5 separate regions of the Homo sapiens genome follow, and all the other regions are linked to region 3. The links come from fine-mapping of genetic effects on gene expression. A gene starts in region 3. Each other region holds a variant in brackets. All regions are shown on one strand. Distances are between the middles of the regions. Region 1 overlaps MXRA7 (matrix remodeling associated 7). Region 2 holds the start of LOC107985089 (a long non-coding RNA gene). Region 3 holds the start of MXRA7 (matrix remodeling associated 7). Region 4 overlaps ITGB4 (integrin subunit beta 4). Region 5 has its middle 18 kb from the start of LINC02080.

What was found.
Region 1: its variant is fine-mapped to the expression of MXRA7 in whole blood (TOPMed, PIP above 0.99). The same link has a PIP of 0.9 or more in atrial appendage, caudate, cerebellar hemisphere, cerebellum, cerebral cortex and coronary artery.
Region 2: its variant is fine-mapped to the expression of MXRA7 in blood mononuclear cells (TOPMed, PIP 0.97).
Region 4: its variant is fine-mapped to the expression of MXRA7 in monocytes (Fairfax 2014, PIP 0.95).
Region 5: its variant is fine-mapped to the expression of MXRA7 in whole blood (TOPMed, PIP 0.98).

Annotation. Positions count from the first base shown.
Region 1 is chr17:76,678,612-76,683,381 of GRCh38, forward strand. It overlaps MXRA7 (matrix remodeling associated 7), which reads right to left. Exons shown (of 4, transcript NM_198530.4): 4 at 955-2,268. The coding sequence ends at 2,256. Among named protein-coding and RNA genes, the nearest start is that of MXRA7, 30 kb to the right of the region's middle. RefSeq lists an enhancer at 3,818-4,364. The variant C/T (reference allele first, on the strand shown) is at 2,463.
Region 2 is chr17:76,819,524-76,824,293 of GRCh38, forward strand. LOC107985089 (a long non-coding RNA gene) reads left to right here and starts at 3,417. Exons shown (of 4, transcript XR_001753021.2): 1 at 3,417-3,458. The variant G/A (reference allele first, on the strand shown) is at 2,703.
Region 3 is chr17:76,709,132-76,713,901 of GRCh38, forward strand. MXRA7 (matrix remodeling associated 7) reads right to left here and starts at 1,834. Exons shown (of 4, transcript NM_198530.4): 1 at 1,474-1,834. The coding sequence starts at 1,815. It also overlaps a transcript of JMJD6 not described here. RefSeq lists a silencer at 1,856-2,065.
Region 4 is chr17:75,748,886-75,753,655 of GRCh38, forward strand. ITGB4 (integrin subunit beta 4) reads left to right here. Exons shown (of 40, transcript NM_000213.5): 27 at 1-160; 28 at 1,226-1,383; 29 at 1,795-1,975; 30 at 2,089-2,226; 31 at 3,289-3,471; 32 at 3,561-3,692. It also overlaps a transcript of GALK1 not described here. Among named protein-coding and RNA genes, the nearest start is that of GALK1, 14 kb to the right of the region's middle. RefSeq lists a silencer at 4,685-4,770. The variant A/G (reference allele first, on the strand shown) is at 2,896.
Region 5 is chr17:76,814,168-76,818,937 of GRCh38, forward strand. No RefSeq gene overlaps it. Among named protein-coding and RNA genes, the nearest start is that of LINC02080, 18 kb to the left of the region's middle. The variant AAAGG/A (reference allele first, on the strand shown) is at 1,850.

The sequences.
Region 1 (4,770 bases), 31 kb before region 3:
TGCCTTCAGAGAACGTAAACCACATCACAGTGTCGGACCTCTCAGCCCTGCTCTGCAGCTGGGTCGGCTGTAAGCACGTTACAGGCTCTGCAACCGCAGGACCTCAGCATAGCCCTGGGCCACTGGCATCCCCCACACTGCCTGGAGGGGTGGTCTCCACGTTCGCTCCCATACTTTTGCTACCATATTCCTTTGCTTCACCCTTCCCTCCTCTCCTCAGCCCCGCATCTTCCATCCTGCAAAATTTTCTGTCTAGAGCAGCATCTAGTAGTTGAAATACTGAAGTCCCACTTCCCAGCCTCCCTTGTCCCCTGGGAAAGCTGTGTCTACAGTCGGTTCCCCTGTCTGGTGAAGCAGCAGCCTATGATGTGTGCTTTGTGCCCTCCTGTAAGAAGAAAGAGGGTCAGGTGCAGTGGCTCATGCCTGTAATCCTAGAACTTTAGGAGGCCAAGATGGGAAGATCACTTGAGCCCAGGAGTTCAAGACCAGCCTGAGCAACATAGTCAGACTCTGTCTCTATAAAACAATTAGCCAGGTGTGGTGGTGAGCACCTGTAGTCCCAGCTACCTGGGAGGCTGAGACGGGAGGATCACTTAAGCCCACGAGGTCCAGGCCACAGTGAGCTGTGATTGCACCACTGCACTCCAGCTTGGGCAACAGAGGGAGGCCCTGTCTCAAAAAAAAAAAAAAAAAGAAGAAGAAGAGGAATTCCCGTGAACAGAAAGGATGTGCTGAGCTCTGTGGATGGAAGCACAATCCATATGTCCCTGAGTGAACACAGATCATGTCATGTGGTTTTGACAGCCATGGTGACTGCATATTTTTTAACAGGGTGGATGTATGGCTTTGTACTCTGCTGCAGAGTAAGAGGCATCAAAATGAAAGAAAGGTCAAACTTCAATGGGTTCAAAAGGGATTTTGTTTTAAAACAAAGCAAACTGAAAAAACACACAGTAATTGAGATCATCTACTCAAAGTTTATTGGACTGAACAAAGGCTGAATACAGAGATCCAAGCCATGAGGAGTACATGAGGTGTGGTGCCTATAAGCCAGGGTCGGAAACTTTCCAGACAAACCTAGATAGCTCTACTAGGAGGGAGTCAACGACCTATTGTGTCAATTAGATCCCAGCCTGGACAAGGGCATGACTATTGCTGTTTGGGGACACGTGGCTCTGTGTTGAAGGCAATGACTGTGTGGCTGTTGCCATGTGGCCTGTTCTCCCCTAAGCCCTGAACCAAAGGTTCCAGGCCCAGATGAGAAGGCCCCTGGGAATGCATGCCATAGGGGTTGATGCTGGACATTCCCCAGCCTTCCATTAAATGAAAACATTTTCTATAAACTTACTGCTTTAAAAAAATGTTTTAACCAACAAACCTAAGAACTGCAAATGAGTTTGGTATAGTATAAATATTGTCAAATATAAAATTCCAAGAAACCCATTTGAGACTGATCTGATGATCTGAAGTTCTAACTAATCTATCAAACTTTCTAAGAAAAGGCATAGGTCAAGAAATCTTTTTAAAGCAAACATTATTGCTTCTGCTATAGCAGAGTGGAGATTTGGCTGAGCTGGTAAGAACCTCAGTGAAAAGGTGTCTTAGCAATGAAAGGGCTGAATCCGAGATTCCTCTAGATGAAAAATAAGGGGAATGGTCAAGTAAATTCCTGGTACTGGTTCTTTGCTGCCCTGTAATCAATATGGCATCTCACCCCCGACAACCAAGCCAGCCACAGAGAGAAGTGGGGTTCCCAGGGAAAGGGGTCGGCTGACCACCCTGACGGAGCTGGTGAGCACAGGTGAGCTCTACCTCATTTGTCTCTCATTCCTCAAAGTCTTCTGTGGTTTGGCTTCAGTGAGGGCAAAAGAGGGGAGACTGGAGTGAAAGTGAACTCTGCTTTTAAAATGTTCTTTTTATCTAAGGTGTGCAGGGTGTGTGGATAGCAAGTTTGAGTGGTAAGAAAAATCCCAGTCCAGGGTCTGAGCTCTACCTCTTAAAACTCTTCAGCTTAACAAAGTGACCCACAGGAACAGACATGAACATCTCTACACAGGGCAGGGCCAAAGGTGTTCCCAGGATCCTGCTAGCCAAGGGACAAGTCCTGATTGAGGGTCTAGAGCTCAGCAGATTTATGGAGGCAGCATGCACCCTGGGAGCCTGCCCAGACTCCTCTCTGGGGTTTCCGTTTTATCTCTCAAGCTTTTAAGATGCCAAAAGGAAAAGCCTTTAGGAGGACGCTAAGGATAACTTCGTTATTCTTCAGTTCTGTAAAGAGAAATGGGGAGAAAAAGATAATTTATTTTACTCATTCCATCCTGCACCATGGGCAAGGAAAGGGGGAAATGGGGACGAGGAAGGAGAATGTTTGGAATTGCAGAAGCTGCGCTAGACTCTGGTTTCTCAAACCACTGCTGATTTGCTTCTCATCGCTTGCAGCAAGACAGTCTGTGCCGCCAAGC[C/T]GGCCAGAGCTTGCAGAGCTCCCCTTGATCCCGCACAGAACCTGGCAGCCCACAGACCCTGTTCAGCCTCTGCAGGGTACTTAAGGAAGGAACTTGGGCATTTGAGTTGCCAAGGGCCTTTCTGATCTTGGGTTGTGTGGTTGTGCTGACAATATTCCTATCACCCTAGATAATTTCCCATTCCCGCTGGCTGAGTTTTGTCCCCTCGGGGGATACTGGCACCCTAGGATGCACGCTTCCAGATGGAGCCAACTGCATGCCCGTCTTTTATGAACCAAGACACACTGCCAGCCCTGGGACCACTGAGAACCCAGCAGGTCTGATCTTGTCCCTCTGACGCCCTCTCCTGGTGGTCACAGTCAGCACGCATTTCCAGCCTGAGCTGGAAATTCACACTGGCAGGTCTATTGTCTGTAGTTTCTTGCATACATCAGATGGAAGAACCAGAACTACCCCACAGCTGGGGTTCCTTGGCCTCCTCCTCCCCTTCCCTGTTTTACCACACTAGCACCTTCCTCTAGAGTCATGTCCATTTCCAGAGGAGTCAAGACAGCCCTGCAGACCTCAAATGGAGGGGTGGGTCCTGATCTATCAGAGCCAGCCCAGTCTATAGCCTGGGTTCATTTTCCCTCTGAGACCACAAGGTGGGAAGAAGTGATGGAGAGGAGCTGACAGCCGCGCCTGTTCTTTCTCCTGCCAAGCTGTGAAGCCAGCCAAGCCCTGCCAGCTTCCCTAGCTCTGGGGGAGGAGGAGGAGGCCTCTTGCTCAGGGGAGCTGTCACCAGCCTGCAAGCCCACTGTCCTAGCCACACTGTGAAACTGGAGGTGGCACTTCCCACAGCAGCTTCAGCGGAACCCAGGGACGCCACCAGAGGCATGAAGTGTGTGAAACTCCGGCCCGAGGGGAGAGCTGAGGAGGCGGGCAGACAGTGGCAAGCAGGATCTTAAGCAGCAGCTGCCTCTGGATTTACAGACCTGACCGCTTTCTGGCCCCAGGCGGAAGGAATTTGATCTGTGAGTAGTTCAAGGATGAGACTGACCACTTCAGCATGTCGGGGAACTAATTGGGGGCCTTCTGCTTCCAGTCCCACTTCCTAATTGTCATGAGAGCCTGTGAACTGAAGCTCCTGGGGAGTGCTGGAACTGGCAACCACTAAAGCTTCAGGTTCTAGATGCAGATCTGTTGGCTGAGCTAGTAAATTTAAAGTTAGGGGACGTGCAGCTTGTAGCTGCAACTCGACTGGACCCTGAGAGCTGGGAAAGGCATCAGAGGCATGGAGGCCGGGAGGGTGGAACCTGACAGGCGGAGAGAGAGCACCCTGCTAGCTGGCCTGTGGTTTTAGTGGTTTGATAACAACAGGCATGTTATTTTTCATACTGATGATTCTAGGGCGGTTCCCTGGACTTGGCTGGGACCAGAACTGTCTCACAGCTGCCAGCGCTCCCCACCCCCATGAGAACCATCGTGCTGAAGATGAAGAGCCAAAGCCAAACTGACCAGCCTCTGCAACCCCAAGCATCACCGTGTGAGGACAGCGTGATGTGGAGCCGCGGAGACCCCACGCAGTGCTGCGAGGGGCAACCACATGCAGGGGGGCAGAGGTGTGGGGGAGCAAGCAGATGCCACCGGCATGCCTAGGAGCCACAGGGAGCATGCGGGCTGGGCAGTGATGGGAATGAACGTGAACTCCAGTCCTGCCCCAAGAAGTCCTCCGGCCCCTCCTTCTCAATTCAGGGCACAAAGTGGTAACTGCAGCATGCAGAGGAGTCGAGGAGTCTTCCCTCGTCCCAGGAGCAGCACCTCGGGCACAGTCTCGGTCCCACAGAACAGCCAAGTGTGGGTTGGTGGTCTAGAGACCTCCAAAGATCCAGTGGGGGAAGGATGGGCAGCAGAGGGTCTACTCTCTGAAAATAAGGGGAAGGGATTTTCCCTCCCCACTGCCAAGGTCCCAGCTCTGGACGTGGGTGGCAGTGGCAGTTTCACCCCCAGCCGGAGGCCTGGTCTTTCTTGTTCTAAGAGGCCCTCCAGATCCATCTGCCTGAGCAGCCTCTGTCCCCAGGGACCTTCAAGGGCTGGCAGTTGTGTCCAGCCCCCTCTAGCCTCTGTCCAGGGACTGCAACCTTTTTCTGCAAACAGCCAGATACTACTTAGATTTGGGGGGCTGTGTGGTCTCTGCTGCAGTGACTCACCTCGGCCACTGCGGCACAAAGAGGCACAGACCACAGGAAAATGGGTGAGTGTTGCTACTACTGCCACGCTGGATTGGCACAGGCAGGTGGGGGATCAGATGTGGCCCGGCCGTTGTCTG
Region 2 (4,770 bases), 110 kb after region 3:
CCTTCTCTCCAGGGCATTAACATTTGGGCAAGGGTGTGTAATGATTCTCTCATTTTTAACTTCCAGTTAAATAATCCTGTTTTTGAATAATTTATGTTCTAAGACTTCCATTTTTAGATGCTTTCCTTCTGTGCCCCCTTCCCTTGGGCCACTGCAGACTTCCCTTGGCACTTCTTCTTCTCCCAGAGGTCACCTCCCAGCAGGCTCTGCTCCGGGGATGCCTGGTGGGTGGAGGGCTGCCTCTTCCCCCACTTCACTGGGGTGGGCTGCTTACATCTTGAGGCTCAATCACATGCATCAGAAGCTGCAAAGTCCCAGAAGGCAGATATTGTTTTCTCCTACCTTGTCCTCAGTTTGCTGTTGATTTCCTAAAAATAGACTTTACCTTTTAATAACTTCCTAGCTTGCCATAATTGCCAGGTCCCATGCTGTTGGATAGATGGGACAGGCAAGAGCTCGGCAGCCACTGTGAGTCCCTCCTGTAGGGGAGGGCAAATGGCAAGGGTTGTCCCAGAGGGCCCCAGAGTGCTTGGCCCAGGTGAGCCCTGCTCTGAAAGGAGAGACTTGGATCCCCTTTGCCCTAACCTGGGGCCAAGCTCTGAAAGGACAGAGGTTCCCTTCTGCTCTGAGCTGCCTCCTCTGGGCTTGCAGGAGAGGGGATAGCAAAGGCTCTACCCAACCTCAGCAGCTGGGGGAGTCCAGAGGCCTCTGGAGTGCTCTGCAGGTGGGCAGCCTGGGGCTCTCCACAGTGTCTCAAGGGACAGCTTCCCCTGGGGCACCACAGTGGGAAAGATGCCAGGCAGAGAAGTTCCCTTTTTCCTCCGGGCTGTGTTGAAAGGTGGTTACTGGAACCACTTACTCTGTTAACAAAAATCAACTGTCTGTCCTTAGGTTATGAAGGGTGGGGGATGGAGGGCGCAGTGTGGGGAGGGAAAGTTGGAGTCGGGGGTGCATAAAGGGAATTGACTTTGCAGTCCCAACTCTTCTTTTCTAGAATCCAAGATTCAGTCTCCCCTTGGATGACAGCGTCTCTCTCTATGTCTAGTTTTGTAGGATGGGGATCCAATTTTATTAAGGTAGAGAGGGCAGGTCCTTGCCATGCAGGAGGCAATCAGGAGGAAATCACTCCAGAGCAGTTGGCATGCTCTCAGGTCCATCTGGCACCTGCCCCAGGGCTGCCTTGCTAGCAGAAACCATTCTGCCCTTAACCTCCGGTACCCTGCCAAGGAGGTCGCCATTCCTGGGGCATCTGCTGCTATTGGGAGCAGGCTTCCTGGCCAGGGGCCAGCTGTGAGGGCCCCTTTTCTAGGAGCAGAGTAGGAAGCCATGCGGTGTGGGCACAGGCTGCCAACATGATGATCCTCTCCCTATGCTGCCGAGAGGGGCCTTGGGGACAGAGAAGCTTGGGTTCACATTACATCCCCCCACTTCTTAGATGTCACCCTGAGCAAAGGTGTAACTTTTCCAGGCCTCGATTTCACTGCAGCACTCAAGAAATGGCTACTTCATGGGGTTAAGGTGAGCATCATTTAGGGGGTGCTCAAATGGTCCTTTGATTAGGTATAAATAAGGAGTGAGACCACTTTGCACAGAGGAGACCCTCAATAAATTCAGTGAATCAGAAACATCACAATTATCCCCTTCTCCTGAGAGAAGGAGCATGTGGACCAATGCCAGCCTAGATCAAAATGCTGGTCGTCCTTTTTTTTTTTTCTTTTTTTTTTCCTTGAGACAGACTCTTGCTTTGTTGCCCAGGCTGGAGTGCAGTGGCATGATCCCCACTCATTGCAACCTCCGCCTCTTGGGTTCAAGCAATTCTCTGGCCTCAGCCTCCAGAGGAGCTAGGACTACAGGTGCATGCCACCACACCCAGCTAATTTTTGTATTTTTAGTAGAGATGGGATTTCACCATATTGACCAGGCTGATCTTGAACTCCTGACGTCAAGTGATCCACCTGCCTGGGCCTCCCAAACCGCTTGGATTACAGGCGTGAGCCACCGTGCCTGGCCATCTTTTATTTATTTATTTATTTATTTTGAGATGGAGTCTCACTCTGTCACCCAGGCTAAAGTGCAGTGGCGTGATCTCAGCTCACTGCAACCTTCGCCTCCCAAGTTCAAGCAGTTCTCTGCCTCAGCCTCCCAAGTAGCTGGGATTACAGGCTCCCGCCACCATGCCCAGCTAATTTTTGTATTTTTAGTAGAGACGGGGTTTCACTATCTTAGCCAGGCTGGTCTTGAACTCCTGAGCTCTTGAACTCAGCTCAAGTGATCCACCCGCCTCGGCCTCCCAAAGTGCTGGGATTACAAGCGTGAGCCACCGCACCTGGCCCATGTTTTCTTTTTTTTTTTCTTTTTCTTTTTCTTTTTTTTTTTGAGATGGAGTCTTGCTCTGTTTCCCAGGCTGGAGTGCAATGGCGCAATCTTGGCTTACTGCAACCTCCACCTCCCGGGTTCAAGCGATTCTCCTGCCTCAGCCTCCTGAGTAGCTGGAATTACAGGCGCCTGCCACCTCGTCCAGCTAATTTTTGTATTTTTTAGTAGAGATGGGGTTTCGCCATGTTGGCCAGGCTGGTCTCGAACTCCTGACCTCAGGTGATCCACCTGCCTCAGCCTCCCATAGTGTTGGGATTACAGGCATGAGCCACCATGCCCGGCCCACCTTTTCCTTTTAAACAATGGATTTTGCCACTTGATCTGGA[G/A]CTGGGGTCCTGGAGGCCTGGGTCAGGATGGGAAAGGGGGTGGGGTCAGCCCTGGCTGTGGCAGAGAGGCTCCGAAGCTCTGGACCCGGCAGAGTGGAGTGCAGGAGGCTCTGTTCCTCTTCTGGCACGGGGCCAGTGGATGCTGGCCTCCACTCAGCATCACTTCATGGTGACATCAAGCCCGTGATCTTCAAGGCACTTTGTCAGTGTACAGCCAGCAGCATTATGTTGGAGCTGTCCCTCATCTTTGCAATCATCTAGTTCAAGCTCCTCTCTTCTGCAGCTAAAAACGTGGGTGCTCATGCTGAGATCACCCACAAGCACTGCCCAGCTGTCACTTGGGCCTCTGAAGGAGGCCAGTGAGGAGGAGGAGTGTGTGGGGCCACTGGGCCTAGCACCCTCTGGGTATGAGCCTGGGCTTTAGAATGAGGTGGAAGGTGGAGGAGGTGGGTATTGGGAAGCGGCAGGAGGGCTTTTGGGAAACTTGGAATTCCCACTCTCAGTGACGTGTCTTAGGAGCCCCCTGGAACATTTCTATTTCAACTGAGTTGATCTGAGGAACTCTGACCACCATTTTCACCCAGTGGCATTCAAGGTAAGGAAAAGCGAATATTTTTTCTTGTTGTTGTTTGAGACAGGGTCTCGTCTGTCACCCAGGCTGGAGTCCAGTGGCACGATCACAGCTCACTGCAGCCTCAACCAACCAGGCTCAAGCAATCCTCCTACCTCAGCCTCCCGAGTAGCTGGGACTAACAGGTAGGCACCATCATGCTCGGCTACTTTTTGTATTTTCTTTTTTATAGAGGTGGGGTTTTGCCATGTTGCCCAGGCTGGTCGCAAACTCCTGGACTCAAGTGATCTTTCTGCCTCAGCCTCTCAAAGTGTTGGGATTACAGGCGTGAGCCACCGCACCCGGCCATAATTATTTTAAATAGAGTTGAAGTCTCACTGTGTTGCCCAGGCTGGTCTCAAACTCCTGAGCTCAAGTGATCCTCTGGCTTTGGCTTCCCAAAGTACTAGGATTACGGGCATGAGCCAGGGTGCTTTGCCTAATTTTTAATTTTTTTGTGGAGACAGGGTCTTGCTATGTTACTCAGGCAGATCTTGAACTTCTAGCCTCAAGCAATCCTCCTGCCTCAGCCTCCCAAAGCGCTGGGTTTACAGGCGTAAGTCACTGCTTTTGGCCTCCTCTAACCTTGATTCTGTATTCCCCTCTCCTGGGTGCCTGTGCACACATACACACACACATTCACCCGCTTATACATTTGCACATGCACCTGTACACTTGCACACTCTCCCTCATAAACTTTTTTTTTTTTTTTTTGAGACAGAGTCTCGCTCTTGTCACCCAAGCTGGAGTGCAATGGCATGATCTTGGCTCACTGCAACCTCTGCCTCCTGGGTTCAAGCGATTCTCTTGCCTCAGCCTCCCGTGTAGCTGGGATTACAGGCATGTGCCACCACGCCCGGCTAATTTTTGTATTTTTAGTAGAGACAGGGTTTCACCATGTTGACCAAGCTGGTCTCAAACTCCTGACCTCAAGTGATCCACGCACCTCGGCCTCCCAAAGTGCTGGGATTACAGGCATGAGCCACCGCGCCGGGCCCCTCATAAAGTCTTGCACACACTCAAACGCTCACCCACCACACCTACACACACCACACACACTCCCTGTCCTGCACACCTCTGCACACACGCACCTGCCCAGAGCACCTTGCTGGTTCCCCCGCTCCTGCTCTTGGATGGTTGAGCTTTGCCGAGACACGTCTGGAAGTGGAGTTGATCTGCTCACCCTCCGTTTTGCTCCCCCGACCCCAGCCCTTCCTGGGCTGTGTCTCCTCTTGACTGTCCTTCAGCTGCCCGCAGCCTTGCCTTCAGCATCCTTCCACCCACCTTGAGTGTTCCACCGTAAACCTACCCCCTGCTCTGGGATTCGCCTCATGCTTTCCTGAGCTCAGTGCCATCCTGCATTTCCCTCTTCAGCTCCTCTCCTCACGGTCAGCCGGGCTGAATAGGGTCCCTCCCTCCCTGCCATTTGATGGCCCATCGGTTGACTGATTCCTGTCC
Region 3 (4,770 bases):
AGGACATTTTGCACTTCAGTCCAGAGCCTGGTGTGGGTGATAAAGGGCCAGCCCTGTAAGGCCAGGACTGACTGAGTGTGCATGACGGCTCCAGAACTGTCTAAAGGCCTCTCCTGCTCCCGCGAGACCTCGATGGAGGCAGGAATCCCAAATATGGGAGCAAACACAACAGATCAGCACATGTCCAAACCGCGCCCCCTCCACCATCACCGCGTGAGGTCTGGAAGCCCACCCCAAGCAAGAACGGCAGGGCCTGCCCCTGCTCCACCCCATTAAATGTGGCTGGTTAGAATCCTCTCTAATGACACAATTAGTCACCCACTTGTCAAGCAAAGCGCCTGCTCAGAGGGGGTCTGGCGCACTTACTCAGCAAAGAGAAATGCCTCTGAGCACAGCCTGGCTGCCTCCTCCTCCCCCGAAGGGCTTCTCTCCAGGGTAAACCATTGTGTCCAGCACAGGACAGAGTGGGCACGCAGACACGCAGGCACGCTGACAATGCGCATCCCGGCTCTCCTCCCTTCCAAGAAAAGGAGCTCAGGGGTAAGAACAAGGGATTACAATCCGACTCGGAGACCCTGGCGGTGGCCTGGACCGGCCAAGCGTGGTGAACTCCAGGGAACATGGGCACACAGTGTAGGGGCTGGGATGAGTGGATGAGGGAAATCCGACTCCTCTCAGATATCCACAGGCAGGACAAGGTGGCCAAGGCCGAGCTGATGGACAGCATGGCGGGAGGCCTGGGGCAGAGGCAGGGAGGGCCGCTTTGGGGTGCTCACTGGTGCTCCAGGAGGGCTTTATCCTGCATCTTCACTCCATCCAGGCCCAGCTTACCTACAACCCGGGGGAGTGGGGGTAGGAGGGTGTTAGATGTGTAGCTTGAAAACGACAATAAAAAGGACTGCTGGGATCGGGTGCCTTTTCTTTCAGTCCCAGCCCACGGGCTTCACAAAACGCCACAGCACTGACTCTGAAATCTGGACTTCAAATTGGCTGAAAAAGAAAAGCCAGCTTTCCTCCCTCGCCCCCCGAAAGTCCTACTTTTTAAACATCAAGATAACTCTCATGGCAGGCCTGGAAATAAGCCACAGGCACGTGGATTTGGGAACCGGTGGGCGGGAGGGGTCAGAAGTGGGTGAGGAGCAAAATTCCAAGCCCTGGTCCCGAGGCCTGGGAGCCAGCAGCTGCGGAGCACGCCCTGGGCTGGGAGAGGCCGAGGGGAGGGGAGAGCAAAACACCTCCAAACAAACTCCTTCGGGCTCGCCCCTCGCCACACTTTCTGGGGGAGGGCGGCGAGTTTGCGGGGCTGCGGCTTAGCATGGCGGGACCTGCATTTCCTGCGGGCCGCGGGTTCTGCGCTTCCTGGGGGCAGCCTGGGCTGGAGGCCGCGGCCCCGCTCCCTGGCTCGGCGGGGAACGGCAGCGGCAGCCGGAGCCCCGGGGGTGGGGAGGGGGCCGCGAGGGCCCCGGTGCGTACCTGCCTCGCCTCCACCGCCTGCTCCTCCGCCTCCGCTGGCGCCGCCGCGGGATCCCCTGGCCCTTCGGGCTCCCCCGGTCCCGCAGGCTCCCCGAGCTCCCCCAGCCCCGCGGGCTCTCCAGGCTCCTCCGGCCCCGCGGGCGAGGCCGCCGGCTCGGGGGCGCAGGGGCGGGACGGCGCCGGGGCCCCGGTGGCCTCGGCCGGGGGCGCGGGTTCCGGGGGCGCGCGGGCAGGCTCCGGGCTCGCGGCCGCCCCACGCCGCACCAGTAGCCAGGCGAGCAGAAGGGCCAGCGCGGTGGCCAGCGCAGGCAGCGCGGCCAGTAGCTCGGCCGGCGCCTCCATCGCGCCGCGGCCGCCGAGTGCGGGCCAGCTGGGACCCCGAGGGAGCCCGCCGCGCCCCGTCGCCGCGCCCGGTCGCCGCGCCCCGCCTCGGGGCGGAGCCCCCATCGCCGCGCCCCGCCCCCGCCCCCTCCGGCCCCGGGAGGGTGACGCACAGGCTGCGGGCGGGGGTGTTGAGGGGGCAGAGCCCTGACCACCTGGGAGGCACAGGAGGGCCAACCCCTGCCCGGCCTGGGCAGCCTTGACGCTTTGGGGCACAATTTAGCTCAGGTTCAATTTGAAATACTGTATGAGGTGCCCTTAGGTTGTCATCTTTGGCCTTAGTACGGCGGTTCGTCTTAGAGCATTTTGGAAATGTGGGAATGCAGAGAGACAAGCAAACCCGGGAAGCTTCATGGAAACGGCAGCCTGGATTGGCTTGTAAAGCAATCATAATGCCGGATTACGTTCAGCCACTGCCGTTTTTATAGGCATGTCAGGAGTTGCTTTTAATCCTCAGGGTTGCCTTAATGCACTTTCACAGAGGACATCTCCAGATCCCGGCCAGTGAATGCTCCCTTCGGAGCTGAGGCCAGCAGCCTTCAACACAGGCCTCCCTGTTAACAGTAACATGGCTCCCCCGCCCCTAGACCTGAAATTCAGCTGCAGGTCCTTGGTCAACGCTATTCCTCTTACCAGACTTTCTTCTTTGCACAATTCCAGAATGCATGCAGGGTGGGAGGGTACAATGAAGGAAATGAAGGCTATTGTTTTTGTTTCTCCAGATCCTCCCAGGCCTCTGTTGCTGAACAGTGGATTTTGAGATAAACACGTTGTAACCAAAAACATACTTTCCTACCACTCCCCACCCACTCTTTAGTTATTTTAAATAAACACAGGACGGGCATGTCAGGTATCACGCCAAACATAAGGCCTAATGTTAAAAAAAACACGGTTCCAGTTTTTGCTGAGGATGCCTTTAATACTTTTTTGGGAATATTACAGTGCCTGAGCTGATCTGTGATATAAACCAGATATTAGATGGAGTGCTTCTTTTTAAATGAAGATACACAAACGAGACCCCTCAGCAACAGGGAGAGCTGAATTCTGCTGCACTGCACGATATTAAGCGGGCCATGCACTTCCTTTTAGTGGTGGTTGATGAAAAGAGCCTATAAACTATAAAATGTGAAATAGGCTTTATCTACGGGCGACTAGCTTTTAACCACTGTGGAAGTTTCAGCCAGTGTATGGGCCTATTTTTTTTCTTTTGAGATGGAGTCTTATTCTGTTGCCCAGGCTGGAGTGCAGTGGCGCAATCGCGGCTCACTGCAACCTCCACCTCCCGGGTTCAAGCGAAACTCCCACCTCAGCCTCCTGAGTAGCTGGGATTACAGGCGCCCACCACCATGCCCGGCTAATTTTTTTCTGTTTTTAGTAGACAGGGTTTCACCGTGTTGGCCAGACTGGTCTTGAACTCCTGACCTCAGGCAATCTGCCTGCCTCAGCCTCCCAAAGTGTTGGGATTACAGGCGTGAGCCTCCGCGCCCAGCCAATTTTTTTTTTTTTTTTTTAAAGAGACAGGGTCTTTCTTTCTTTTTTTTTTTTTAAAGAGACAGGGTCTCACTATGTTGCCCAGGCTGGAGTGCAGTGGCTATTCACAGGCATGATCATAGCTTTCTGCAGCCTCGACATCCTGGGCTCAAGTGATCCTCCTGCCTTAGCCTCTTGGGCAGCTGGGATTACAGGTGTGCATCAATGCTCCTGGCCCAGGGCCTTAATTTTGTGCTCCATCCCATTGTTTTAAAGTGTAAATACATTTTTTTAAAGTCCTGTTCTGCTGACAAAGTACATTGTTGACTTTCAAATGAGTAAGAAAGAAAATAAGGACAAAACAATGCCAAAAACACAACTCCAAATCATGTTGCTTTATTTAAAATGATGAACAAGTTTCACCCAAGTGAAAGTTTAAAATACCAACCCAATAGCAGATCCACAGGCTTTCATGGCAGACCCCATGGCTAGACGGACGCAGAACTAGGAGACTGCTCAGTGTTCTGACAACTCCAGGAGGCACGAGTGTGCAGAAGACAGTCCCAGTTCTTCTGTAGCATCCAGTCACTTTGGAGACAGCTGGCCAGGGCTAGCTCTCCTCCCAGGAGGTTCACTGGGGCTTAGATGACATTTCTTTTTTTTTAAAGACAGAGTCTCGGTCTGTCACCCAGGCTGGAGTGGCTTGATCTCAGCTCACTGCAACCTCTGCCTCCTGGGTTCAAGTGATTCTCCTGCCTGAGTTGACCAAGTAGCTGGGACTACAGGCATGTGCCACCACACCTGGCTAATTTTTGTATTTTTAGTAGAGACGGGGTTTCACCGTGTTGGCCAGGCTGGTCTTGAACTCCTGACCTCAAGTGATCCACCTGCCATGGCCTCCCAAAGTGCTGGGATTACAGGGGTGAGCTACGGCGCCTGGCCGAAATTTCTGAACAATGAGACAAAGTTGAGAGCCACCGCCTGGGGGTGCAAGCTCACCTAGTTTTGCTGCATAGGATGTCACATCTTGACACAAGCTAGTGGGAGGGGAGTGTGGAAGAAGCCGCCAGACTCCACTTCAAATCTACCAGCAATACCAGTACACACATCAAAAACAACTTACTCGTGGAAATACTACAGACAATCTAAAGAACCTACAGCTGGGGCATCCTTATACGCCTTCCTCCTACACAGCATTTTTTACATTTACTGCAAAAATTTTGTTCCATCCTATACTCGTCTAAAGTCCTAAATCCAAGGCTCAGTCTCTAGTAAGCTTATAAAGCATTTGCACCAGCAACCTTCCCACAGATCCTTAGTTTTGCTACTTTATGAAGAAGCTGTTACTACCTTAAGTATACATTGGTGTTAATTATGCTCTTTCATGTAGATCCGTTACACCTGCATTTAAGAAGGTCTGCACTTTCTTCTACCTGCCCTCACCAG
Region 4 (4,770 bases), 960 kb before region 3:
GCCTGGAAAGAGCTGCAGGTGAAGCTCCTGGAGCTGCAAGAAGTTGACTCCCTCCTGCGGGGCCGCCAGGTCCGCCGTTTCCACGTCCAGCTCAGCAACCCTAAGTTTGGGGCCCACCTGGGCCAGCCCCACTCCACCACCATCATCATCAGGGACCCAGGTAGGCAGAGCCTGGGGGTCGGCTTAAGCAGGAGGAGAGGGAAGACTGGGGGGTCTCTCAACTAGGTCTGTCAGACTTAGCAAATCCAAACACAGGACGCCCAGGTAAATCTGAATTTCAGGTAAACAACATACACGTTGGTAGGATAAGTATGTCCCATGCAATATTTGGAACATACTTATCCTTTTTTTTGCAAAATGGGCTGGGTATACTGGCTCACACCTGTAATCCCAGCATTTTGGGAGGCCAAGGTGGGAGGATCACTTGAGCCCAGGAGTTCTAGACCAGCCTGGGCAACATAGTGAGACCTCGTCTCTACAAAAAATAAACAAATTAGCTTGGCATAGTGGTGTGCACCTGCAGTCCCAGCTATTCCGGAGACTGAGGTGGGAGGATCACTTGAGCCCAGGGGGTCTGGGCCGCAGCAAGCTGTGATCGCACCACTGCACAGCACCTGGGCCATGGAATGAGATCCTGTCCCCCAAGAAAAAATAATCTTGTTGTTTATCTGAAATTCAAATGTAACTAGGCATCCTGCATTTTATCTGGCAACCCTACAGCTAGAGAGGCTGTTGTCACCACACAATAGGAATTCTCCCATCAGACCCTGGCCCTTTGGCTTCAGCCTCAATTCCAACTAACATGCAGATGCTTGTGGAAGGAAGGAGTGGGCCAGTTAGTTCCTATCAGCCCTCAGCCTCCCAACTGGGAGAAAGCCTGCCAGGAAGATGGGAGAGGAGGGAGATACTCAGGGTACAGTGTGGAGATGGGGTGGGGAGCAAATGTTCTCATGTGGAATGTTCCCTGAGCTGCCAAGGGAGAAAGGGGCAGACCAACTCCCTCCCGCTTCTGTTCCTCCAGAGACCCTCCTGGGTCCTCCGCCAAGCTTGGCAGGATGCTCTATGTGGCAGCAATGGGGCACCACCAGGTCTCCAGAGACGCGGGTGGGCAGGTCTGAGTTGAATGCGCTGGGTAGAGCGCCCTGGGTGTTGAAGTGGGTCTCTGGCGCCCCCTGGTGGTGAAGGGGGATCTGAGTGGTTGCCCGGCCCCAACCTGACCCGTTAGATGAACTGGACCGGAGCTTCACGAGTCAGATGTTGTCATCACAGCCACCCCCTCACGGCGACCTGGGCGCCCCGCAGAACCCCAATGCTAAGGCCGCTGGGTCCAGGAAGATCCATTTCAACTGGCTGCCCCCTTCTGGCAAGCCAATGGGGTACAGGGTAAGGCGGGGGGCTGAGGGTCACGACAGGTGGATGGGCGGTCTGGCACCAGCACTCACAGAAGAGGTGGGCCGTCCAAGGCCAGGGCCCCCTGAGAGAGAGCAGACAGTGGAACCTAGCACAGGTGGTCAGAGGGAAACCCGGTCTGTGCTGGGAAAGAGGGAAGACCCATTCCTGAGTTTATCAGACATTTGCCCTCCTTCCTAGAATGGGGCCCCCTCCCACCCCCGCATGGGAGATACCCCCACCTGCTCTGCCCTAGTCCTGACGTGTGCACATGGCAGATCTCTCAGCCCCTCCCTCGGGCCTCATCTGTGCAAAGAGGACAGTAAGGGCAGAGGTCAGAGGAGGGACAGGCAGCTTGGGTGCCTGCTGCTCCCTGCTGACCAGGACCCCTGTCCCTGGGGGTAGGTAAAGTACTGGATTCAGGGTGACTCCGAATCCGAAGCCCACCTGCTCGACAGCAAGGTGCCCTCAGTGGAGCTCACCAACCTGTACCCGTATTGCGACTATGAGATGAAGGTGTGCGCCTACGGGGCTCAGGGCGAGGGACCCTACAGCTCCCTGGTGTCCTGCCGCACCCACCAGGAAGGTGAGGCCTCGCCATGTCTGTCCATTTGTCCCCTGGCTGCCCTGATGCCAGCATGCCCAGACCTCCCTCCCTCTGCCACTGACAGCACTCTTCCTGTATTCCCCGCTCCCTAGTGCCCAGCGAGCCAGGGCGTCTGGCCTTCAATGTCGTCTCCTCCACGGTGACCCAGCTGAGCTGGGCTGAGCCGGCTGAGACCAACGGTGAGATCACAGCCTACGAGGTCTGCTATGGCCTGGTCAACGATGACAACCGTAAGAACCAGATCCTTCTTTCCTGCCCACAGGGAGAACAGCCATGGAAGGGGAGGGGACAAAGCTGGAGGGAGCTCTTGGTCACTCCCTGGACCTGCTGTGCAGGGCACTCGAGGCCTTCATCCTGGTCAGCGGATAAGCCTGAGGCATCTTTAGGGTTTTGGCCAGATTTGGGCTGGGTTGCATTCTAAGACCAAACCCAGAAGGTTGCAGGGTGGGTGGTTACCTATGTGGAGTGAGGTCACAGGCCCAGGGGTACCCCTCCCCATGCAGGTAACCAGGGAGCTCACACGTGCATGGTTTTCTTAGGGTGAGAGGAAAGTTACCGGATTTAGCAAACAGAAATACAGGAGGTTCTGAATTTCAGATAGCACTTTAAAAGATTATTTTGTACATTGAGAGGCCGAGGCAGGTGGACTGCTTGAGGTCAGGAGTTCAAGACCAGCCTGGCTAACATGGTGAAACCGTTTCTACTAAAAATTAGACAGGCATGGTGGCTCATGCCTGTAGTCCCAGCTAGTCAGGAGGCTGAGGCAGGAGAATCACTTGAACCCAGAAGGCGCAGGTTGCAGTGAACCGAGATCGTGTTACCGCACTCCAGACAGGGTGACAGAGCCAGACTCCGTCTAAAAATAAATAAATAAAAAGGATTATTTTATACATTATTTT[A/G]TCTAGCAGCCCGAGATCAGAGGTGCCTAGCAGAACAGTTATTTCTCCAGTCCTGGAAGGGAGGCAGGGTGGGCAACCCCTATGCGTGCCCTTGCCTTGTGTGGAGGCACCGTGGATATATGGGTAGAGGTGACATCGAGGCCAACTTGAGTCCAGCCCTGGCTCTGCCACTTACTCAGCAGAGTCCCTTGGAGGACTGGTGACATATGTCCACGCCAGTCATGCTGACGCTCAGGGCTCCGCAGGCGGCAATTCAGCAGTGGCTGGCTTTGCCTTGCTTCCCCAGCCCCTGGGTGCCATCCAGGGGATGCACGGCCGTCCTGCTGTGTCAGGGGTGGTGTTGGGACCAGGCTGGGACCTGGGTGACCCTCTGAAGCACTCTCTCTGCCCCAGGACCTATTGGGCCCATGAAGAAAGTGCTGGTTGACAACCCTAAGAACCGGATGCTGCTTATTGAGAACCTTCGGGAGTCCCAGCCCTACCGCTACACGGTGAAGGCGCGCAACGGGGCCGGCTGGGGGCCTGAGCGGGAGGCCATCATCAACCTGGCCACCCAGCCCAAGAGGCCCATGTCCAGTGAGTGGTGGGCAGGGAGGTGAGGGGCAGACCGGGCAGGGGGGCAGGGGGCAGCAGCCAGGGCCCTGGCTCACTCCCCTGCCCTGCAGTCCCCATCATCCCTGACATCCCTATCGTGGACGCCCAGAGCGGGGAGGACTACGACAGCTTCCTTATGTACAGCGATGACGTTCTACGCTCTCCATCGGGCAGCCAGAGGCCCAGCGTCTCCGATGACACTGGTGAGTGGAGACCTGGGACCCACAAGAGGACAGTGGGGGTCTTGGGTACAGAGTGAGTCCACTGGGTCCAGAGAGGGCAAAGGGGCCAGCAACTAGAGGACATGGAGGTTAAGGCAGCCTTGGACAAATGCAATGGAGTGCACATCTGTGCATGGGGCACAGGAACCAGTGCCTGGGGGACAGACACACACAGCCTTGTGCAAGCGCACATGAGTTCATGCCCACGGGACCACGAAGAAACACAGCTTCACAAGTTGAAGGTTCACCAGCTGTGCCATGCACACAGGACACTCAGGCCACCCCCCAGGGGCAGGCCTGGCCCAGGAGCCCTGGGCAGCCACCAGGCGGCCACCTGGCAGGGGTAGGGGAGCCAAGGAGACAAGAACACCCCCAACAGCTCTGTCCTTCCTCCTTGATTCCCAGCACAAAGTGCTGCGGAGCCCTTAGCTGGGCCTCCTGAGTGCTCAGTGTCAGCTGTGGCTCCACCTGTGGGACATCAGATGAATCACTCATCCTTTCCATGCCTCACTTTTCTGCTCTGTATAATGGGATACCAATCACACAGTACCATGAGTGGAAAAACCTCTGGGGCACGTATATCTTTTGTATTTTCTTCTGTCCCTGCCGATGCCTCAAGCTGCCCCCGGTGAACACATACTGGCCCCCACGGGGCTCAGCTTGGGCTTAAGGAGCCATTTTGAGGGGTTCAGGTGGAGCGCAGCTGGTGTGACTCTGGAACCCCAGCTCAGCTGCTTCTAACACTACCTGCGAAGCGCTCGGTGGCTTGCGGAACGGTCCCTGGGAGGCGGGCAGGGGCAAGATTCCTCTCTCCATTGTACAAACGGGAAACTGAGTCTCGGAGAGGTTAAGTAAAGCAAGGGAGACCTCACAGCTGGTGACAGAGCCCAGACTTCCCCCAGGTTTCTGGCGGGTCCGGGGGTCTCTCCTCCCCAGCTGTGCCGAGGCTGCACTCGCTCATCTGGAAAGGCTTCAGCCGCGCAAGGGTTTCACCTGCCGCGGCCTTCCCGCTCCGGCCGTGCGCATCTACCCCCGCCCCCAACACACACCCCGGGATCCC
Region 5 (4,770 bases), 110 kb after region 3:
AGGAGCATCACTTAAACCCGGGAGGCGGAAGTTGCAGTGAGCTGAGATCACGCCATTGCACTCCAGCCTGAGCGACAGAGCAAGACTCCATCTCGGAAAAAAAAGAGTTTTGCCATGTTGCCCGGGTTGGTAACCCCTGAGCTCAAGCAATTTGCCCACATGGTCCTCCCGAAGTCCTGAAATGACAGGTGTGAGCCGCTGTGCTGGGCAAAATTTTATTTTTTATTTTTTTTATTTTTTGTGAGACAAAGTCTTGCTTTGTTGCCCAAGCTGGAGTGCAGTGGTGTGATCTTGGCTCACTGCAACCTCTGCCTCCCAGGCTCAAGCGATCTTCCCACATCAGCCTCCCAAGAAGCTGGGACTACAGGTGTGCACCATCATGCCAGTTAATTTTTGTATTTTTTGTGGAGACAAGGTTTCATCATGTTGCCCAGGCTGGTCTTGAACTCCCGGCCTTAAGGAATCCACCTGCCTCAGTCTCCTGAAGTGCTGGGATTACAAGCGTGAGCCACTACACCCCAGCAAAATTTTACTTTTAATGAAGACTGCGGACCACAAGAAATGCTAGCATTGTCAGTATTGGCTCACTCAGTAGGTACCCAGTGTCATTCCCAGACAGCTTCACCTAGCACCTATAACTTTGGCCAGTTGTCTACTAAATTATTTGTTATAAGGAGGAGCAGGCAAGAAAGATCAGTGTAAAAATCACCCCAACTGTATGAAAAATGTTTAAAGCATGCCTCCTTATTGGGATAAATTCTGCAAATCCCCAGCTCCTACTGTAGGGTAGAGGAAAGGAATACACCAGAGAGCAAAAGCCACAGAGCTGTGCCCTCCCAGAACCTCCAATCCAACACAGCATCACACAGAGCTTCAGCAACACTGGCTGTGCACAGTCTGCACACCCGGAACAAGCCAGGATTTGCCCGGATAAAACAACACAACTTTCTTATGAGACATTCGAGCTGGGCTTTCAGCTCCTAGCAAAGTCCTATGTCAAACAAGGCCAGGCCAAGCTCCAGGATGCCCGACCCCTGGGCAGGTTTTCTCTCCCAAGGTTTCCTCTTTCCTCCAGTTTGTTGCTTGCCCTGTCAGGGTCTGAGGAAGGATGACAACAGAGAAACCTAGATTCTGGTCCCATGTGGGCATCTGCAGGCAAGTCATAGACACTCTGGACCAAATATCCTCATCTGAAAATAAAGGTTTGGCCATGATGGCTTCCAGGGTGTCTGTTAGTCAAGAAATATTCTGGGCCTGGTGTGGTGGCTCACATCTGTAATCCCAGAACTTTGGGAGGCAAAAGCGGGAGGATTGCTTGAGGCCAGGAGTTCAAGACCAGCCTGAGCAACATAGCAAGACCCCCATCTCTACAAAAAATAAAATAAAAATTAGCTGGGCATGGTGGCATGCACCTGTAGTCCCAGCTACCCAGGAGGTTGAGATGGGAGGATTGCTTGAGCCTAGGAGTTCAAGGTTACAGTGAGTTATGATTGTGCCACTGCACTCCAGCCTGGGCAGCAGAACAAGATCCATCCCAGCACTTTGGAAGGCCGAGGTGGGTGGATCGTGAGGTCAGGAGTTCGAGACCAGCCTGGCCAACATGGTGAAACCCTGTCTCTACTAAAAAAAATACAAAAATTAGTTGGGCATGGTGGTGCGCGCCTGTAATCCCAGCTACTCGGGAGGCTGAGGCAGGAGAATGGCTTGAACCTGGGAGGCGGAGGTTGCAGTGAGCCGAGATTGTGCCAGTGCACTCCAGCCTGGGCGACAGAGCAAAACTCCATCTCAAAAAAAAAGAAGGGAGGAAGGGAAGGGAGGGAGGGAAGGAGAGAAGGAAGGAAAAGAAAGA[AAAGG/A]AAGACAGGAAGGAAGGAAGGGAGGGAGAGAGGGAGAGAAGGAAGAAGGAAGGAAGACAGAAAAAGAAAGGAAGGAAGGAAAATGCTCTCATTCGGCTGGGTGCAGTGGCTCACGCCTGTACTCCCAGCACTTTGGGAGGCCAAGGTGGGCGGATCACCTGAGGTTGGGAGTTCGAGACCAGCCTGACCAACATGGAGAAACCCAGTCTGTACAAAAAATACAAAATCAGCTGGGCATGGTGGCACATGCCTGTAATCCCAGCTACTAGGGAGGCTGAGGCAGGAGAATCACTTGAACCTGGGAGGCAGAGGTTGCAGTGAGCTGAGATCGCGCCATTGCACTCCAGCCCGGGCAACAGAGCAAAACGCTGTCTGAAAAAAAAAAAAGAAAAGAAAATGCTCTGATTCTCACCCAGGTGGAGTCCCTGCAGGACCCATGCTCACCACTGTTTCTATGTCCCTAGTCAACCAAACACCACCAACCCTTAGCTAGTAGCTTCAGATGAATTCCAAATGCCTAGGCAAAAGTTTTAGCCATGGCCCTCTGGCCTTCTAATCCTTCATGGCTTACCAAATTAACAAATTCCAGGCGGAAATGGTCTCTTGAAGTGTGTAGGAATCACTGTGCTGTTTTTGAAGTCTTGCATGAAAGAAACCTCAGGGCTCGGAGACCAGGCTCACATCCTTTCGTGCCCTGCAGAGGGCGACCCGCTCTTGCAATCGGATTTTCTGTATTGTGAGGGAGTTACTGTGAAGTGTGCCTCCTTTTTGTGTGGCTAACCCCCAGGGCTGGGACGGAAGAGGAATTGAACTGGCATAGTAAATTAAAATGCAATTTGAACTTCAATGCAGCCTTTCAAATGAGGCTCTGCTGCGCTCTCCTGACACCCCTCCTCAATTCTTCTCTGGGGTGGCATGGAGGTATCTGATGTTCCTATTTAAATCCCTGAGTTCATACACTGTCCTTATCTGTCATTTCCTCTTTGAAAGGCACTGAGAACTCAATTCAGGGAAAATTGAAAACCTTTCCAGATATTACTGTTTTGAAAGTGGTTTTGCCAAAAAATATAACAGCAAATAAACTCTAGTAAGAATGAGATTCATTTAGCTCTTGTTGCCTTTGACCTCAGAAGAAAACATCTAACAGGAAGCCTAGAAAGTCACAGTTAAATATATAAATTCATTTTGAACTAAGAGTCCTTTTTTTTTTCTTCAGCACTAGAATTCCTGCAGTAGAACAGGTATATATATATGTATATACATTTTTTTACATCAAAACCACTTAGACCAGGTGCGGTGGCTCATGCCTATAATCCCAGCAATTTGGGAGGCCAAGGCAGGTGGATCACCAGAGGTCAGGAGTTTGAGACCAGCCTGGCCAACATGGTGAAACCCCGTCTCTACTAAAAATACAAAAATTAGCCGGGTGTGGTGGCGCATGCCTGTAATCCCAGCTACTCGAGAGGCTGAGGCAGGAGAATCGCTTGAACCTGGGAGGTGGAGGTTGCAGTGAGCTGAAAATACGCCACTGCACTCCAGCCTGGATGACAGAGCAAGACTCCGTCTCAACAACAACAACACTTAATGCTGCCTCAGGTTGCTAAGAGGAGCCTGGAGAGTGGAAAGTTGTGTGCACAGGAGAGACTTTAGTCCACTGTCATTTGTGCCTTTACCATTGTCGTCTTTTCAGTGGCCCTTATTATTGGGGAGTTTTGCTGCTTGTAGTCATTCAATGACATTTTCCTCTAGCCCTCAGTGACTGCTGCAATCCCCTTTTCTTTTCTCTTTCTTTTTTTTTTTTTTTGAGATAGGGTCTTGCTTATTGTCCAGGCTGGAGTGCACTGGTGCAATCACAGCTCGCTGTAGCCTCGATCTCTGTATTAGTCCATTCTCACACTGCTATAAAGAAATACCTGCAACTGTGTAATTTATAAAGAAAACAGGTTTAATTGGCTCACGGTTCTGCAGGCTGTACAGAAGGCATGGCTGGGAAGGCCTCAGGAAACTTACAATCATGGTGGAAGTTGAAGTTCCATATCTGGAGCAGGAGGAAGAGAGGGGGGAGGGGCTACATACTTTTAAACAACCAGATCTCATGAAAACTCACTGGCACAACAACAGCCAGGAGGAAGTCCACCCCCATGACCCAGTCACCTCACACCAGGCCCCTCCCTCAACACTGGGGATTATAGTTCTACAGGAGATTTGGGTGGGGACAGAAATCCAAACCATATCAACCTCCCAGGCTCAAGCAATTATCCCACCTCAGTATCCCAAGTTGCTGAGACTGCAGGTGTGCCAGGTGTGCACCACCATGCACAGCTAATTATATATATATATATATATATATATATATATATATATATATATATTTTTTTTTTTTTTTTTTTTTTTTTTTTTTTAAGAAATGGGTTCTCACTATGTTGCCCAGGCTGATCTCGAACTCCTGAGCTCAAGTCATCCTTCTGCCTCGGCTTCTCAAATTGCAAGAATCACATGCAAGAGCCATTGAGTCCAGCCCCTTTGCTTTTCTACGTGAACTTAGTATGGGAGTTATCAGGTTGATTCTGGAGGTCATTTGTCCCTCACCTGCATTCAAGGAATAGATTCTCCCATCCTCAGTGTTTGCCATCAGAAAGACGTAGCTGCCATCCAACTTAAGCTGCCCTTGCTGGAATTTAGATGAATTTTCCTGTTATCTTTATAGGGTGAGTCGGTTACCCTTCTGTAGTGGGTGAAGTCGTGTCCCCCAGAAAAATATGTCCAAGTCCTAACCATCGGTACTTGTGAACTTAACCTTATTTGGAAATAGGGTCTTTGCAGATGTCATTAAGTTGAGGATCCCCAGAGGAGATCATTCTAGATTCAGAGTACCTACTACATCTAATGACTGGCATCCTTATAAGAGAAAGGAGAG